Linked DNA regions of Homo sapiens: region 1 is linked to region 2. The links come from fine-mapping of genetic effects on gene expression. Tissue or cell type: whole blood. Region 2 holds a variant in brackets; the other region holds the start of a gene. All regions are shown on one strand. Distances are from middle to middle.

Region 1 (8,000 bases), 29 kb before region 2:
GGGGCAGCACCTCACTGCCGTCCTGTTCCTACTCACCAGGGGCTCTTCAGAGCAGCAGGACACCTGCTCAAACCCAGGGCCCTGCTCATCACCTACGGGGTGAGTGGGCCTGTCCACGGCGGGCCTCCCGCTCCCAGTCCTAGCTGCTGTCTCCTGCCCTGCTGAGAGTCCTCCCTCCTGGGCTCCCTGCCCCCCGCCCAGCCACCAGCACGGCCTCCCCTCCACTTCCAGTCTGTACCCCTCCCTGGGTCATCTGCCAGCCTCCCTACCCCCTTGCCCACCAGGCTGGCCTTGGCTGACTCCCTCTTGGGGACAGGGAGGGGGTGCCCTTTCATTCTCCAAACCCCAGCCTGCAAGTCTGTCCCAGGCTCTCTGGGAAATACCCCGACCTTGGTCCAGTGGGCTGTGTCCCCATGCCCACAGCCCTATGCCATCAATGGGAAGATCTCCCCCCAGAGCAACGTGGACTTTGACCTGATGCTCAGATGCAGGTCAGAGCTAGAGGCGGGGGGTCTGGCTCAGGTGGCAGGTGGCTTGGGTGGCACCCCCCAGGCCATGACTCCATCTCCCCACCCTCTGCAGGAACCCAGAATGGGGGCTTCGGGACACAGCCCTCCTGGAGGACCTGGGAAAGGCCAGTGGCCTGCTCCTGGAGAGGATGGTAGGTGGGGGAGCGGGGGCCCAGGCAACCTCTCTAGGGGTTGAGGGCCGTCCTCCAGCAAAGTGTTTCTCCAGGTGGACATGCCAGCCAACAACAAATGCCTGATCTTCCGGAAAAACTAAGCCCCTCCTTCACCCCCGCACACCTGCATCCCTGCCGGAGGCTCTGTGAGGCACGAACCCTGCCTCCCTAGGCCGGACCTTGTGGACGACAGCCCCACCCAGTCTGTGCTCTCAGCCGCTGGCCGAAGGGCCCAGCCTGCTCAGAATAAAGCATGTCCTGCTGCCGGCTTGCTGGTGTCTGCCCCACCTCCTCCTAGGAGCACCTTGTGAGGTTGGGTGGGAGACGGGGTCTCCTGTGGGGTCAAGGGCTTGGGACGTCCTGATCCTTGCTGCTGGAGCTCGGGCAGTGGGATTGGGGCCGAGACAGCTGCTGAGGCAGGATGGAGCTGGTTGGGGATGCAGGGGCGGACAGGCACTCCCTGGTGACCTTGTACCAAAGCCCAAGCCCCAGTGGGTGTCAAGGCCCCAGCGGAAACTGGCTGGGCATGGGGCACCTGGAAGGATGAGGGTCGCCCGACCAGCAGCAGCAAGCCAGGAGGTCTGAGGCACAGGGAGTGCGTTTATTCACCAGGACGGGGTGGCGCAGGCCCCTGCGGGGGCTAGTCCTGGAAGCGGTTGAGCAGCTCGCAGGCCTGCTTCTCCAGCAGCTCCAAGATCTTCTTGACGCGCTTCTCGCTGGCGGCGCGGACGTAGCTGCCGGCGTCCAGCACGGCCACGCCATCGCGCACCTCACCCATGATGACCAGCGGCCCGTCGCCCGCCGTCATGTTGGGGCAGGGGCAGGCCCAGTCCATGCCACTCAGCGTCACCTCCAGGTACTTGGTGCCCAAGAACTTGAGGCCCATCTTGTCATCCTTGAGCACGTCCTCGAGCGCCACGCGGGCGATGCCGCCGGCGGCCTCGGGCTCCTCCAGCACCTCCGTGAGCCGCCCCACGATGGCGAAGTCGCTGCGGCACAGGCTCAGCGCCAGCTTGCTCCGGAGGCGGCAGGCGCGGCAGGGCGGTGTGCGCGGCACGGGGCAGGCATCCTCGCAGCTCTCGCGGCTGTGGAAGTTGTTGCCGTTGCCCTCGCAGCCACCGTACACGAAGGGATGGCACTGCTGCAGCAGCGGGCTGTAGGCCCAGCGCGGCTCCCAGCCCCGGCAGGGGCCCTGCACGGCAGGCAGCACGCAGGCGTCGCCGGGGCCGCGGGCACAGGCCTGCTGGCATGCCTCGTAGGTCTCAAAGCCGCGGGCCGCCCCATCACAGCCACGGGCCGGGAAGGTCATGCAGCCGCCCCGCTGCGGGTCGTAGTGCCAGAGGACAAGGTGTGGGGAAGTGGGGCCCGTGCAGGCCTGCACATCCGGCAGGCACTCGGCCGGGGCTGGGATGCTGGGGGCTGCGTCCCTGGCCGGCTCTCGCTGGACCACAGAGAGTGGGAAGTCAGCCCGCAGCAGCCCAGCAGCGTTGCGCGCGGTGCAGGTGTACAGGCCGGCGTCTTCGGGCCGCGCGTTGTAGAGCACCAGCTGCCCGATGCTGGTGACCACCACGTTGCCATACATCTGATCAGGGCGCATGATCAGGTTCTCTCGCTGGTGACTCTGCTTCTCCCAGGTCACAGCAGGCGGCGGGCGGCCGCTGACGTCGCAGTGGAGGCTGGCCGTACCCCCAACCTGCACCGCCTGTGGGGAGGGGCTGCTGTACAGGGCAGGAGGCACGGGCGCGGCCCCAGGTGTGGGGCGGGCAGTGGTCTCCGGCGGCCCCGGGCTGCTGGGCGGCCAGCTGAGCACGTGCTTGCAGGGCACGATGTGGAGGTGCAGGCCCCGCAGGCAGGCCTCGGCGTCCATATAGCAGCGGTTGTAGTAGGTGAGGCCGTCCGAGGCGCAGGTGAAGCTGGGCTCCTTCTCACAGCGGTCGCGGCAGCGGCACACGGGCTGCCCGTCCCAGATGTCGCAGTCCGAGCCCTGCTGTGGGCACACAAAGCCCTCGCAGGAGGCCGCTGTCGTCGGCGCAGCTGGGCTGCCGGGGAAGCGTGCTGCCACGCAGCTGTGCAGTCCACACACGTTGATGCAGCACTTCTCAGCAGCCGCACAGTCCTGGGGATGGGGGACACTTAGGTGGGAGCCCCAATGCCCCCCGCCCCGGGGCTCTGGCCTGGCCCCTGCAAGGGGAGGCCCAGGTGGGGTAGCAGGGAGCCCCCCGCTCTGTGGCTGCCTCCCCGGGGACTCAGTGTCCTTTCCATCCTGTGTGAGGAGCCACCTCGCCAGAGGTGCCACCTGGCTTACCTTCCAGAATCCTCACACCCACAAGCAAGTTCCGTTATTCTTTACGTTGTACAGACGAGGAAACTGAGGCCCAAGGAGGGCGTACAGTGCTCAGGACCACCCAGCAGGTGGTGCGGGCCAGGACAAAGGCTGGACATCGGCTGCAGCACCCCCACCACCATCTGCACTGGTCCCGGATGGAAGGAGGGTGGGAGGACAGGGAGGACAGTGGATGGAAGGAGAGGGTGGGAGGAGAGGATGGAAGGAGAGGGTGGGAGGAGAGGATGGAAGGAGAGGCAGTGACGGGGTGGGAGAAGAGGATGGAAGAAGTGGATGGGAGGAGTGGATGGGAGGAGTGGATGGGAGGAGAGGGTGGGAGGAGAGGCAGTGAAGGGGTGGGAGAAGTGGATGGGAGGAGAGGATGGAAGGAGAGGCAATGACGGGGTGAGAGAAGAGGATGGAAAAAGTGGATGGGAGGAGTGGATAGGAGAGGATGGAAGGAGAGGCAGTGATGGGGTGGGAGAAGAGGATGGAAGAAGTGGATGGGAGGAGTGGATAGGAGAGGATGGAAGGAGAGGCAGTGACGGGGTGGGAGAAGAGGATGGAAGAAGTGGATGGGAGGAGTGGATGGGAGGAGAGGGTGGGAGGAGAGGATGGAAGGAGAGGCAGTGAAGGGGTGGGAGAAGTGGATGGGAGGAGAGGGTGGGAGGAGAGGGTGGGAGGAGAGGCAGTGACGGGGTGGGGGTGGTCGCCGAGGATGATGGTGCCCCAGGGTGGAGGCACATGGGGAGCATGAAAGCTGGAGTGGGGAGGGCTCTTATTCTTAAGACAAATGAGGGCAACGATGGGGGTGTCTCTGGGCCCCTTAAGGGGCCCAGACCCAGACCCCCCAGAAGTCTGGGGAGCCCAGGCAGAAGGTGGCACCTCCAGCAGGGTCTTGCCCAGGCTGGCTGCTCTGAGCCCCAGGACCCCGGCCCGACCACACTCACCTGGTCCCTGCTACACTCGCGCTCACAGGTGCTCTGGGCGTCCACCCACAGGTTGGGGCTGAGCTGGTTGGGGCACACGCCCGGGTGGCTCCCCAGCCCTGGCAGCAAGCCAGCCCCCGAGGTCAGCCGGAGGAGGAGCAGGAGCGGCAGGAGTGGACGTAGGGCGGGCATGAGGGCCGCCGAGCCAGGGGGCCGGGGGGTGTGGCCACCAGCCCCTCCTCGGGCTCCACAGAGCCCAGCTTCCTGCAGGCATCCACCCTCCGGGCCTGTGGTCGGTGCCCCCACCAGGACCCCGGGGCTCCCTTTTGCCCCTGAGGCTGAAGCCTGCAGCAGATGCTTGTCCTGACACCCCTGCTGGGTGGGTAACGGGGTCTCCAAGTTCTCAGAGGCCGTCTGTGTGACGCTGGTTCCTCTCCAGCTTCAGCCTGGCCCCTCTGTCTGAACCGTGCGGGGGCTCCCAGGCCCTGGTCAGCACAGGGCAGAGGGGAGGAGGTTGGGGAGGGGCCAGAGGCCCATGAGCACAGAGCCACTGGCCATGAGGGTCACCGGGGCGGGGAAGGGCTGGCTCTGGCTGGAGAGGGGGAGGGGAGGGGACCCTGTAACCTGAACCCCTTCGTCCACCCCTGGGCTGAGATCAATCTCCTTGACGACCCTCAGTAGGGTGGGGGCAGGGCCAGCAGATCCCAGCTTTTGTCCCTGGCGCCCTCTGGACCCCAGGCTCCTATGCCATGGGGGTGGCAGGCACGGGCCCTCCCCGCAGAGCGTGGCTGACCACAGCCTGGGTCCCCCGGGCCAGGTCCAGGCTGGCAACGGTCACGTGCGGCCGAGGGCTTCACTCCGCTCCGAGGTTCCTTCCCCCCTCCATGGCTGTTTCAGGGGCACAGGGGTCTGCAGGACGCCCAGCACAGCCCGGCCTCCTCTGCTCTGCTGCCCCTGTTGGAGTGGGGCCCAACCCGGCAGGACTGCATTCCCAGAGACCCCATCCCTGAAACCAGGCAGCGGGCTTGGGGCTCAGGCCTGTCCCCAAGGCGGGGCAGGTGCAGCAGGAAGAGGCCTGTGGCCACCACAAGCATAAGAACAGCCCGAAACGCTGATGCCGGAGCCTCGGCCCACGCACCGTGTAGCCCTGGACGTGGCTCCGCGTGGGATGGCACCGCCCGAGGGAAGGCCAAGTGCAAGGGCGTCTGCAGCTGAAAAGAGCAAGTGTCCCAGGGCACCAGAGCCTTGCCCTGCCCCAGCCCCCCGTCGGCGGGGCACACATCCCCAGGCTGGCTCCTCTTCGTTGGGGAGGGCAGGGGGCTGGCCTGCCTGGTGCAGCAGGACAAAAGGCTGCCTGGAATCTACCCTTCCAAACCCTCTGTGGCTCCAGATGTCTGGGGCCTCAGGGAGTGGTTCTCTTGAGACCGGATGGGAGTGTCCCCCTGACCCTGTGTCTGACCTCTGACCCAGGAGGCAGGGTAACAGGAGCCTGGTCTGGTCAGAATGAGACCCGGAGACGGCTCCAGGCGCCAGTCCCTGCTCTACAAGGAGACTGGGGGTGGGCCCTGATAGCGTGGGGGTGGGGGTAGCTAGGCCAGACCCAGCAGCAGGCGGCTGGGCTGGAGCTGCCAGGGAGGGGCTTAAGGCCCGGACATGCCCACGAAACAGCACAGGGAGGCACCTGAGCCAGAGGCTGTGGTCTGGTCCCTGTACCAACTGGAGTGCCCCGTTCCAGCTCAGCTGTGACCTCCGGGGCGTCCACACCCCCCTGGGCCGGGCATAGCAGACACCAGATTGGCCAGCGTGCAGGCGGCTCTGCTGAGCGGGCCGACTGACTGGAGGACCTGGCCCTCTGGAGTCCTGCTGCTGTTGGGGACAGTCCGCCCCAGGCCATCTGCTGCCGGGGACTGTGAGCGAGGGCTCAGCACAGCCCAGCTGGGATTCCATCCACCGGGAAGAGGAGAATGGCCGTGACCAGGCCCAGCTGCTCCAGCCCAGCTCCAGCCCTCACTTTGAGGCGAACCCAGCCAACCGCGGCAGGTCAGCCCGGTCAGCGCAGGGAACAGCAGGCAAAACAAAGGCCAGAGGTCAGTTTGCCGGGTATGAAGCAGCACTGGCCCCTGGCACGGGGCACCGCCACTGCCAGACCCACCCCACCAGACACAGCAAAACGTGGGGACCACAGCTGAATTACATTTACTGTACAAAGAACGGTTCGGAGAGAACCAGGAATGGCGGAGTGTCTAACAGCAGCGCGGGTAGTGTTGATGCCGTGAATGCAGGACCATCCAGGTCCTCAAAGTCTGTGAGGTTTGTTCATAATCCCAAACAAGGGCCCTGCTGGCAGCAACAGGACAGGTGGGGCCAGGACAGGGAAGCTGGAGCAGGAGGCCAGTGTCTTTGGGGGCTGTGGCAGGGCCGCCTGCCTGGGGTTCCCTTACTCATCTGGTAGTTCATGCAGGCCACGGCCCTCATCTCCCAGGAACGGGCCATGGGGCGAGTCCACTGGTGCCCAGTAACACCCTCCGTGGGACCACCTTGGGAAGCATGTGCCGCGGAGTCCACCACGGGGGGTCCTGGGTCCCGGGAGGGCTCCTTCTGCGTGCTGGCCATGTCGTGCCGCACGGCCTGAGGACAGGAGGTAGAGGTGAGCACCAGTGCTGTGGGCAGGCCCAGGCGATGGTGACCGTGCAGAGGGGCTGCTGGGGCAGGCATGGGCAGAAGCACTGGGTGGAGGAGCGGCCAATGGCTTCAGGAGAGAGGTGGCCGGCCCTGCGTGCCTGGGGCTCAGCATGAGCGCCGGGCTGGTGGGCCTTTGAGGAGGGGCCTAGCCTCCCGAGGCCCCCAGGTGGACGTGGACGTGGACGAGGTGGTTCCAGGCACGTCCCTAAGAAGGTCAGGATGGTTCTGATGCCGTGCAACCTCACAGGAGAGCTGCAGCTGTGGGGACCCCAGGGCCAGCGACAGAAGCTGCCGAGAACAGGAGGCTGCACGCAGGTGCCCGGGGTCTGCACCGCTGCCCATCAAGTATTCCTAAGTCTACAGATAGCTCTGCACTCTCCAGGGTGGGCGAGATGATCTGAGTTTTGAGTGGTCAATGTCCCCGAAGGTGTCACATCACAGCAGGAAGGTTCTCATCCCCACGTGGGGAGGGATTTGGGGAGCAACAAAAATGTGGGCTGCCAGGTGCACCTCCTTTCTCCCCTCTCCTGAGTGCTGCTTGGGCTCTGACCACAGGACCACACCCTCCATCCCGTGGGAGCCAGGGCCCCGGTCACCCAAGCTTCCAGAGGGAGCACCGGCCCTGTCTGCTCCCCCGGCCTCTGGGCAGCCCCGCCACTCGCAGCGCATGAATTCACAGGATGCCTTGCCATCGCGGCCGCGAGTCCCCTCTCGAGGAGTCCCAAGTGCGTCCCCGCAGCTGGCGTGGCCATGAAGTCACCAGTGCACCACCACCGGGCCACACCCAGGCTTCCCTGAAGGCCCCTTAAAAATGTACAAAAAAGTGAAGTGTTCTCTATATAAATAAGAAAGGCCAACCAGGCTCCCCGCCGGTCAAGCCCAGGCAGCTGGGGAGGCCCGGCTTGTTTCCGACCAAGATTCCCGGAAGCACCAGCAGCCCAGCCGCGCCCCCTCCTCCCGCCTGCCGCGCTTGGTCCGTGCATGCTCCTCCTCGCACCCGGCTCAGGTGTGAGGAAAGCCCGGCGCTTCTGAGGCAGCTGTGTGGACAGTCTCCACGTAGGCGGCACTGGCCTGGCGTCCAGCCAGGAGTGTCCAGCTCGAGCCCTCCTGGCATCTGCACAGGCGGCCCCGCCCATCCCCGCTAGGAGATCTTGCAGTTACTCCGCGAGCAGTTCTGGGGGGGGCTCTGGGGTGGACGGATGGACTTGGACCTCTTGAGGCTGTTGCCCTTGCTGCCGCCGCCCCCGGCCCCGCTGGCCAGGGAGTAGGAACGGCCGTGCATCATGACCGCGTTCATGCCGTTGGCCATCGAGAAGGACTTGAGGTGGCTCTTGATGGTGACGGGCAGTGGAAGCTTGTCGATGAGGTGCACGGGGGTGCAGGA
Region 2 (8,000 bases):
TGTCAGCCAACACCTTGACTTCAGCCCAGGGAAACCCACACTGGACTGAGGACCGAGAGGACTATGTGTCAGCAATAACAGAAAAGGAGTAGAAAGGCCATCTATTGCGGCCCTGTATTTATTATAAATAAACTGAATCCAAACTAAAAATCCACCCACTGGGGAATGGTTACTGACAGAATAGAAATGTTCTATGGCTATTACAAAGAAACAAGCTTGCAGCCATCAGCATGGCTAAAAGGAAGGCAGGACTTAGAACAAACAGGACTCTCCCTCTCTCCTGTGGGACAGAAACTGTGTGACTGCTTTGGAGAACGGGTTGGCAGCATCTACACAGGCCCTACAGCCCAGCTTCCACTCCTCAGTACGTCCCAACAGCAATGGGCACCTGTGTTGACCAAACGCGTCTGAGACTCCTCACAGGAGCCCTGTGAGAGTCACCCAACATGGAAACCATCCCAAAGCCCATCTGGAGTGGAGCCAATGCACTGCAGCCTTGACACACGGGAGACCACTCGGCGCGGGGAAGGAGGGAGCAACTGCACTCAACCACGTGGCCGAAGCTCACCCAGAAGACATGGAAAGAAGGCAGCCGGACACAGGAGAGTTTGCCCTGTGTGGCTCCATTGACGTGAAAACTAGACAAGGCAGATGAGTCCACAGTGACATGCCAGGCCGGGGGCAGAGTGTGAGAGGCCTGCAGAGGGCGAGGCTGCGAGGGCTGATGCTTTCTCAGGCCGGCATGCCTGTCCGCACTCACTGTATTGCAGACTTTAAAGGGGTTTTTTTGTACACAAATTACACCTCAATAAAGCTGATTAATTAAAAGACGGAAAGCTGACAACATCAAATGTTGGCAAAGATGTGGAGCACCTGGAACTCTCATGCATTGCTGATGGGACTATGAAACAATGGGGCTGCTTGAGCAAACAGTTTTCTCTTTTGAGATCAGGTCTCACTGTGCTGCTCAGGCTGGAGTGCAGCGGAACAATCACGGCTCGCTGCAGCCTCCAACTCCAGGGCTCACACGATCCTCCTGCCTCAGCCTCCTGAGTAGCTAAGACTATTACAAGTGTGCGTCACCACACCAGGCTAATTTATTTATTTTTTTGAGACAAAGTCTCACTCTGTCGCCCAGGCTGGAGTGCAGTGGCATGATCTCAGCTCACTCCAACCTCCGCCTCCCGGGTTCAAGTGATTGTCCTGCCTCAGCCTCCCAAGTAACTGGGACCACAAGCACCACCACCACACCAGGCTAACTTTGTATTTTTAGTAGAGATACGGTTTCACCATGTTGGCCAGGCTGGTCTCAAACTCCTGACCTCAAGTGATCTGCCTGCCTCGGCCTCCCAAAGTGCTGAGACTACAGGCATGAGCCACCACACCCAGCCCCAGGCTAATTTTTCAATATGTTTATAGCAACGAGTTCTCACTATGTTGCCCAGGCTGGGCAAGCTTATAAATTAAAACGTACACTCATATATGACAGCAATTCCACTCTTAGATCTACCTAAGGGAACAGAAACACCTTCAGAAAGACTCACATATATTCTAGAGAAACACCTTCAGAAGGACTCACGTGTATTCTAGAGAAACACCTTCAGAAAGACTCACATATATTCTAGAGAAACACCTTCAGAAAGACTCACGTGTATTCTAGAGAAACACCCTCAGAAGGACTCACGTGTATTCTAGAGAAACACCTTCAGAAGGACTCACATATATTCTAGAGAAACACCTTCAGAAGGACTCGTGTATTCTAGAGAAACACCTTCAGAAGGATTCACGTGTATTCTAGAGAAACACCTTCAGAAGGCCTCGTGCGTATTTGTGTTATAGTTTAGTGCTAGTGCCACTGAACTGTATCCCTACATATGGCTAAAATGACGTGTTTTCTGTATTTTACAAGAAAAATAATTAAAAAAAAAAATTTAAAAGAACTAGCTCTGAGCCGGGTGTGGTGGTACATGCCTGTAGTCCCAGCTGCTAGGGAGCTGCTAGGTGGGAGGATCAGTTGAGCCCAAGAGGTAGAGGCTGCAGTGAGCTGAGATCATACCACTGCACTCCAGCTGGGGCAACAGAACGAGAGTCTCAAAAAAAAAAAAAAGAAAAAGAAAAAAGAAGAACTCGTTCACATCAGCATTATTCGTAATACCCCAAACCAGGAAATAACCCAAATGTGCATCAACAAGGTAAATGCATAAACAAACTGGGGTATATTTGTGCAAAGGAATACCACTTGGGAACAAAAAAAGAAGAATCTACTATTGTACATCATGAATAAGTTTCAAAACTGCTGAGCAAAAGAAACCAGGGTCTGCTTCGTATCCATGATGTCTGGAACAGGAAAAAGCAGCCCATGTGATGGAAGCCGACTGCTGGGGGCTGGGGGCTGACTCGGCAGGGCCTGAGGGGCTTTCTGGGAGGAGAGTGGATGTGCTCCTGATTTGGATGAGGGTACTGGCTGCATAGGTACATATATGTGCCAAAACTCATAGAACTGTACATGCAAAGAGGGTACATTTATTAAATAGACATCATCTCTCAATAAAATTGATTTAAAAAAATTAAACCCACAGGGCATTGATCTGCTTTGAATTTGGAGGTCTAAGGATTAGGGGACCGGATTACCCTACAAGACAGCCTGAACACATATCAGAGCCAGATGTGAAGGCACTGCCTGTCCCTGAAGACCTGGGGCTCTAAGTCATTCACGTGCGGGGCCGGCGCTCCGCATTCAATCTTCCGGCATACCACTCCCCTCGGATGTCTTCTGAGACAAGGACAGCCCACGTCCACCAACCCCACTGCAGGCAAACCGGCGCCTGCCTGATGGAGGACAGTAAAGGAAGGAAAAGTTATCTAACAAATTTCAAATGTGTCTGTGTACACCAGCATGCCAAATGTCAGAAGAAATTCTAGGGCAGTTTGTGGACTGGTTTCCTGCGAAGCTAGAGCTTTTACTTAACGCCTTAAAACCCACAACAAGCCAAAAGGGCTCTCGTGTCTACAAAGAGCAGGCACACTTGGCACAGAACACCTGGCTAAACACAGAACATTAAGAAAACAAAAAACACAGGTCTGGCCCCAGCTACTCAGGAGGCTGAGGCAGGAGGATTGCTTCAGCGCCACGGTTCAAGACCAGCCTGGGCAACACAGTGAGACCCTATCTCTTAAAATTCTCCTCTCCCATCTTTTAAGGAGCAGATCCCATAGCTCTCAGATTACTTTCAATGATTACAAATCCAGCTTAGTGTGGCTTAAACCCCAATCTCATGTCCACTTTAAGACTCATTTCTGGCTGTGCTTGGTGGCTAACACCTGTCATCTCGACACTTTGGGAGGCCAAGGTGAGAGAATCACTTGAGCCCAGGAGTTCAAGACCACTAGCCTAGGCAACATGGCAAGACCTCAATTCTACAAAAAATAATTTATTGGCCAGGCACAGTGGCTCACGCCTGTAATCCCAGCACTTTGGGAGGCCGAGGTGGGTGGATCACTTGAGGTCAGGAACTCGAGACCAGCCTGGCCGACATGGTGAAACCTCATCTCTACTAAAAAAATACCAAAAAACTAGCCGGGCGTGGTGGCAGGTGCCTGTAATCCCAGCTACTCGGGGGGCTGAGGCAAGAGGCTTGAACCCAGGAGGCAGACGTTGCAGTGAGCCAAGATCGTGCCATCACACTCCAGCCTGGTGGACAAGAGCAAGACTTTGTCTCAAAAATAAAAAAATAATTTATTAAAAAATTAGCCAGGTGTTGTGGTGCATGCCTATGGTCTTAGCTACTTGAGAGGCTGAGGCGGGAGGATCACTAGAACCCTGGAATTTGAGGCTGCAGTGAACTATGATCACTGCACTCCAGCCTGGAAGAGTGAAACTGTCTCTCTAATAAAAAAAAACAAAACCAAAAAAAAAAAAA[C/AC]AGAGATGACCACTGCTAATGTTGTCATATATTTCATTCCACAATTATTTTACATACTTAAGATATCAAGCATATACACTTCATTGAATAATCATTAAATGTGCCTCCAAATCAGTAGTTTTTTGTTTTGTTTTGAGAGCTGTTGCCCAGGCTGGAGTGCAGTGGTGCAATCTCGGCTCACTGCAACCTCTGCCTCCTGGGTTGAAGCGATTCTCTTGCCTCAGCCTCCTGAGTAGCTGGGATTACAGGTGCCCGACACCACACCCCGCTAACTTTTATATTTTCAGTAGAGACGGAGTTTCACCATGCTGGCCAGGATGGTCCCAATCTCCTGACCTCGTGATCCACCCACCTCGGCCTCCCAAAGTGCTGGGATTACAGGCGTGAGCCACCGCATCCGGCCTTTTTTTTTTTTTTTTTTTTTTTTTTTTTTACTTTTTTTTGCAGGGATAGGGCCTTGCTACGTTGCCTAGTCTGAACCCCCGGCCTCAGGGGATCGCCTGCCTTGACTTCCCAAGTAGCTGGGATTATAGGCGTGCACCACCGCACCCGGTCCTGTGTTGTGATGTTTTACTATTTGATAAACTTATAAGCATTCCCTCTCATGTAATTTTAGGATAACAATTCTATTTTTCATGAGAATCTCCTGTCTGAACACTGCATGCATGGCCCTAGTGAACTGACTGAGACTAGGGGAACAGTCCCAGCAACGATCACATTGCTCTGCTGACGCGGCTGCGGCGGGGACCTGCCCGGAGTCTGGCACCCAGGGGTGCTCAGCACACACCTGAGCAAACTCACACTCTGAGCCGGATCCTGGCGACCCGGGCTCTGGAAACTGACGTGTGGACACTGTTGCTCCCGAGCAGAACAGCCTTCTGCCCAGCCCACCTAGGGCAAATGTAACACCTCTAACAGGCTGGACACAGACGGTTTCTCCTGCTCTTTCATTTCAATTCAGAAAGGATGCACACTTTCAGAATGAGCAGATACTCGGTGATACAGCCTTGATGGTGTGGATAACACACAAAAAATCATAGTTTTTGGTACTACAATTTTTTAAAAGTCAAACCAGCTCCACACACACGTGGGAGCTACAGCTTCTATCTCTGTTCCAAACACAAGCAGCAGGCCCATTTACTGAACGGTGAGGAAAACTACATCAGGAGAGAAGAGCTTTAACGCTAATGACCAGGAGGTGGCTCTGCAAGGAGGCTAAGGGTCTAAATGCAGAGGCAGACAGAGGGGCAGGCTGCTCCTGGGGTGCCAGAGGGCCCCTTCCTCCACAGCAGTCCAGGAGAGCCTCACGCAGCTGCCACACACCAGGCTCTGCCACAGTTGTGACTGCCAGCTCTTCAGAAGACAGAGACTGGAGTCAAAACCTTTCTGTTTCCCCACAGGCAAAACCTGGGCAGTCACCGCTTGCTGATAATGAATTATGTGTTAAACTGTCTGTGTGACGCACGTAGGCACCAAAGCTCTTATTTTTATTTTTTTGAGATGGAGTCTCACTCTGTCGCCCAGGCTGGAGTGTAGTGGTGCAAACTCGGCTCACTGCAACCTCCGCCTCCCCAGGTTCAAGCGATTCTCCTGCCTCAGCCTGCTGAGTAGCTGGGAATACAGGTGCATGCCACCAGGCCAAGCTAATTTTTGAATTTTTAGTAGAGACGGGGTTTCACCATGTTGGTCAGAACGGTCTTGATCTCTTGACCTTGTGATCCGCCCGCCTCGGCCTCCCAAAGTGCTGGGATCACAGGCGTGAGCCACCGTGCCCATCCGGCACCAAAGCTCTTTAAAAAAGTCCAACAACAATGTTTTAAACTCGGCAGGTTAGGTGACATCCATTTCTATTACTTACACTTTGCACTTGCTACTATTACTATTATTATGACTACTATTTTGCATATACTCAATTTTTAATAAAGTAATTTAAGAAGCTGACATACTAGCTATCCCTCCCCACCAGGAGGACACAGGCTCTTCAGAGAGATGGCCGTTTCCAGGGCAGGCAGGACCCACATCTGCTGGAAGTACAGACTGTTCCAGGACACAGGGAGCTCCGGGAACTCAGGGCATAGCCCAGGACGCAGGTGCCACCTGAAGAGGCTCCAACATCAAGGGGGCCATGGGAGTCCCAAACCAAACAGGAAAGGAGTATGATGCCACAAGGGAACAAAACTTTGCAAATCCACGCTGACTGATGCCACGAGGGAACAAAACCTTGCGAATCCACGCTGACTGATGCCACGAGGGAACAAAACCTTGCGAATCCACGCTGACTGATGCCACGAGGGAACAAAACCTTGCGAATCCACGCTGACTGATGCCACGAGGGAACAAAACCTTGCGAATCCACGCTGACTGATGCCACGAGGGAACAAAACCTTGCGAATCCACGCTGACTGATGCCACGAGGGAACAAAACCTTGCGAATCCACGCTGACTGATGCCACGAGGGAACAAAACCTTGCGAATCCACGCTGACTGATGCCACGAGGGAACAAAACCTTGCGAATCCACGCTGACTGATGCCACGAGGGAACAAAACCTTGCGAATCCACGCTGACTGATGCCACAAGGGAACAAAACCTTGCTGAATCCACGCTGATTAATGCCACGAGGTAACAAAACCTTGCTGAATCCACGCTGACTGATGCCACGAGGGAACAAAACCTTGCTGAATCCACGCTGACAGTAGCGAACACCCACGGGTGTGCATTTTCACGTACATGCCTATCGACAGAAGCAGCCATGGCAGCAGCGCACACGGAGGAGGCACGGCGTGGCCCCAAGGGAAGCTGCCTCCTCCTTGCTGACCTGGTGAAGTGGGTCCTGCTGGCATCAGCTGACCTGGCGGCTCCTCTCAGGCAGGAATCAGGTGGGCGCAAGACTCTGCGGGCAGCCACTAGGGCTGTGGCCGGCCGACACGGGCAGGCATCAGCCTGACACTGCCTTGGCAGAGCCTGAGGACACAGACACCCCTCGGAGCAAAGCTGGTGGCACAGGCAGAGAAGGGTCTCCTGTCAGTGGCAGCTTCGGCCGGGGCCGGGGCCTGGGCTGTGACCATACTCCCCTCCCCTGCAGCAGTGACTTTCTGGACCGAAACACAGCACCTCGGCAACCCTGATCAGTGTCACTGTGTTTGTGTTCAGAGTCCTGAATCCTGATGTCATCTACCCTATTACCGCCCCTCCCAGCTAGGTCTGACACACAGGCTGTACCTGCTGTGCCCAGGTGGCCGACAACGTTGCTGACCAGGAAGTCAGGCGAAAGCCCAGCAGCAGCCGCCGGCCCCGGGCAGGGAAAGCAGCACACAGGCTCCCACCGGGTTACCCACGCTGCTGGAGCTGCTGGAGAGTGCTGTGCTTGACCGCCCGGCCTACACCTTCACTCAGGGTTGACATGAGGTTCTTACATCCGGCCGCTGTACAAACTGTAAAGTACCTGCCCATTTCCAGGACTCAGCTCTTCTCTTCTTCCATCCTCTTTTCTTTATTTTTTATTTTTTGAGACAGGGTCTCACTCTGTCACCCAGGCTGGAACGTAGTGCAACAGTCAGACTCACTGCAGCCACCACCTCCCAGGCTCCAGTGAGTTTCCCACCTCAGCCTCCCAAGTAATTGGGACTACAGACGTGCACCACCACACCCAGCTAATTTTCTTTTTTCTTTTTTTTTTTTTTTTTTTGTGAGACAGAGTCTCGCTCTGTCACCAAGCTGGAGTGCAGTGGCACAATCTCAGCTCTCTGCAACCTCCGCCACCCAGGTTCAAGCAATTCTCCTGCCTCAGCCTCCCAAGTAGTTGGGGCTACAGGTATGCGCCACCACGCCCGGCTAATTTTTGTATTTGTATTTGTATTTTTTTTTTTTTTTGAGGTGGAGTCTCGCTCTGTCACCCAGGCTGGAGTCAGTGGCGTGATCTCGGCTCACTGCAAGCTCTGCCTCCTGGATTCACGCCATTCTCGTACCTCAGCCTCCCAAGTAGCTGGGACTACAGGTGCCCGCCACCATGCCCAGCTAATTTTTTGTATTTTTATAGAGACAGGGTTTCACCATGTTAGCCAGGATGGTCTTGATCTCC

Evidence for each region. PIP is the estimated chance that this variant, and not a neighbour inherited with it, causes the effect.
Region 1: WFIKKN1 starts here. The variant in region 2 is fine-mapped to the expression of WFIKKN1 in whole blood (INTERVAL, PIP above 0.99).

The regions. Positions count from the first base shown.
Region 1 is chr16:627,380-635,379 of GRCh38, reverse strand. It overlaps WFIKKN1 (WAP, follistatin/kazal, immunoglobulin, kunitz and netrin domain containing 1), which reads right to left and starts at 4,395. Exons shown (of 2, transcript NM_053284.3): 1 at 3,956-4,395; 2 at 1,263-2,798. The coding sequence starts at 4,126. The coding sequence ends at 1,323. It overlaps RAB40C (RAB40C, member RAS oncogene family), which reads right to left. Exons shown (of 6, transcript NM_021168.5): 6 at 6,112-8,000. The coding sequence ends at 7,758. It overlaps METTL26 (methyltransferase like 26), which reads left to right. Exons shown (of 6, transcript NM_032366.5): 3 at 40-99; 4 at 424-491; 5 at 583-661; 6 at 736-950. The coding sequence ends at 783. RefSeq lists enhancers at 1-135, 4,302-5,036, 5,217-5,511, 5,037-5,770, 7,240-7,973 and a silencer at 7,603-7,853.
Region 2 is chr16:598,169-606,168 of GRCh38, reverse strand. All of the region lies in intron 1 of RAB40C (RAB40C, member RAS oncogene family), which reads right to left. LOC124903618 (a long non-coding RNA gene) reads left to right here. Exons shown (of 2, transcript XR_007064934.1): 2 at 1-836. Among named protein-coding and RNA genes, the nearest start is that of RAB40C, 12 kb to the right of the region's middle. RefSeq lists an enhancer at 6,087-6,588. The variant C/AC (reference allele first, on the strand shown) is at 3,921.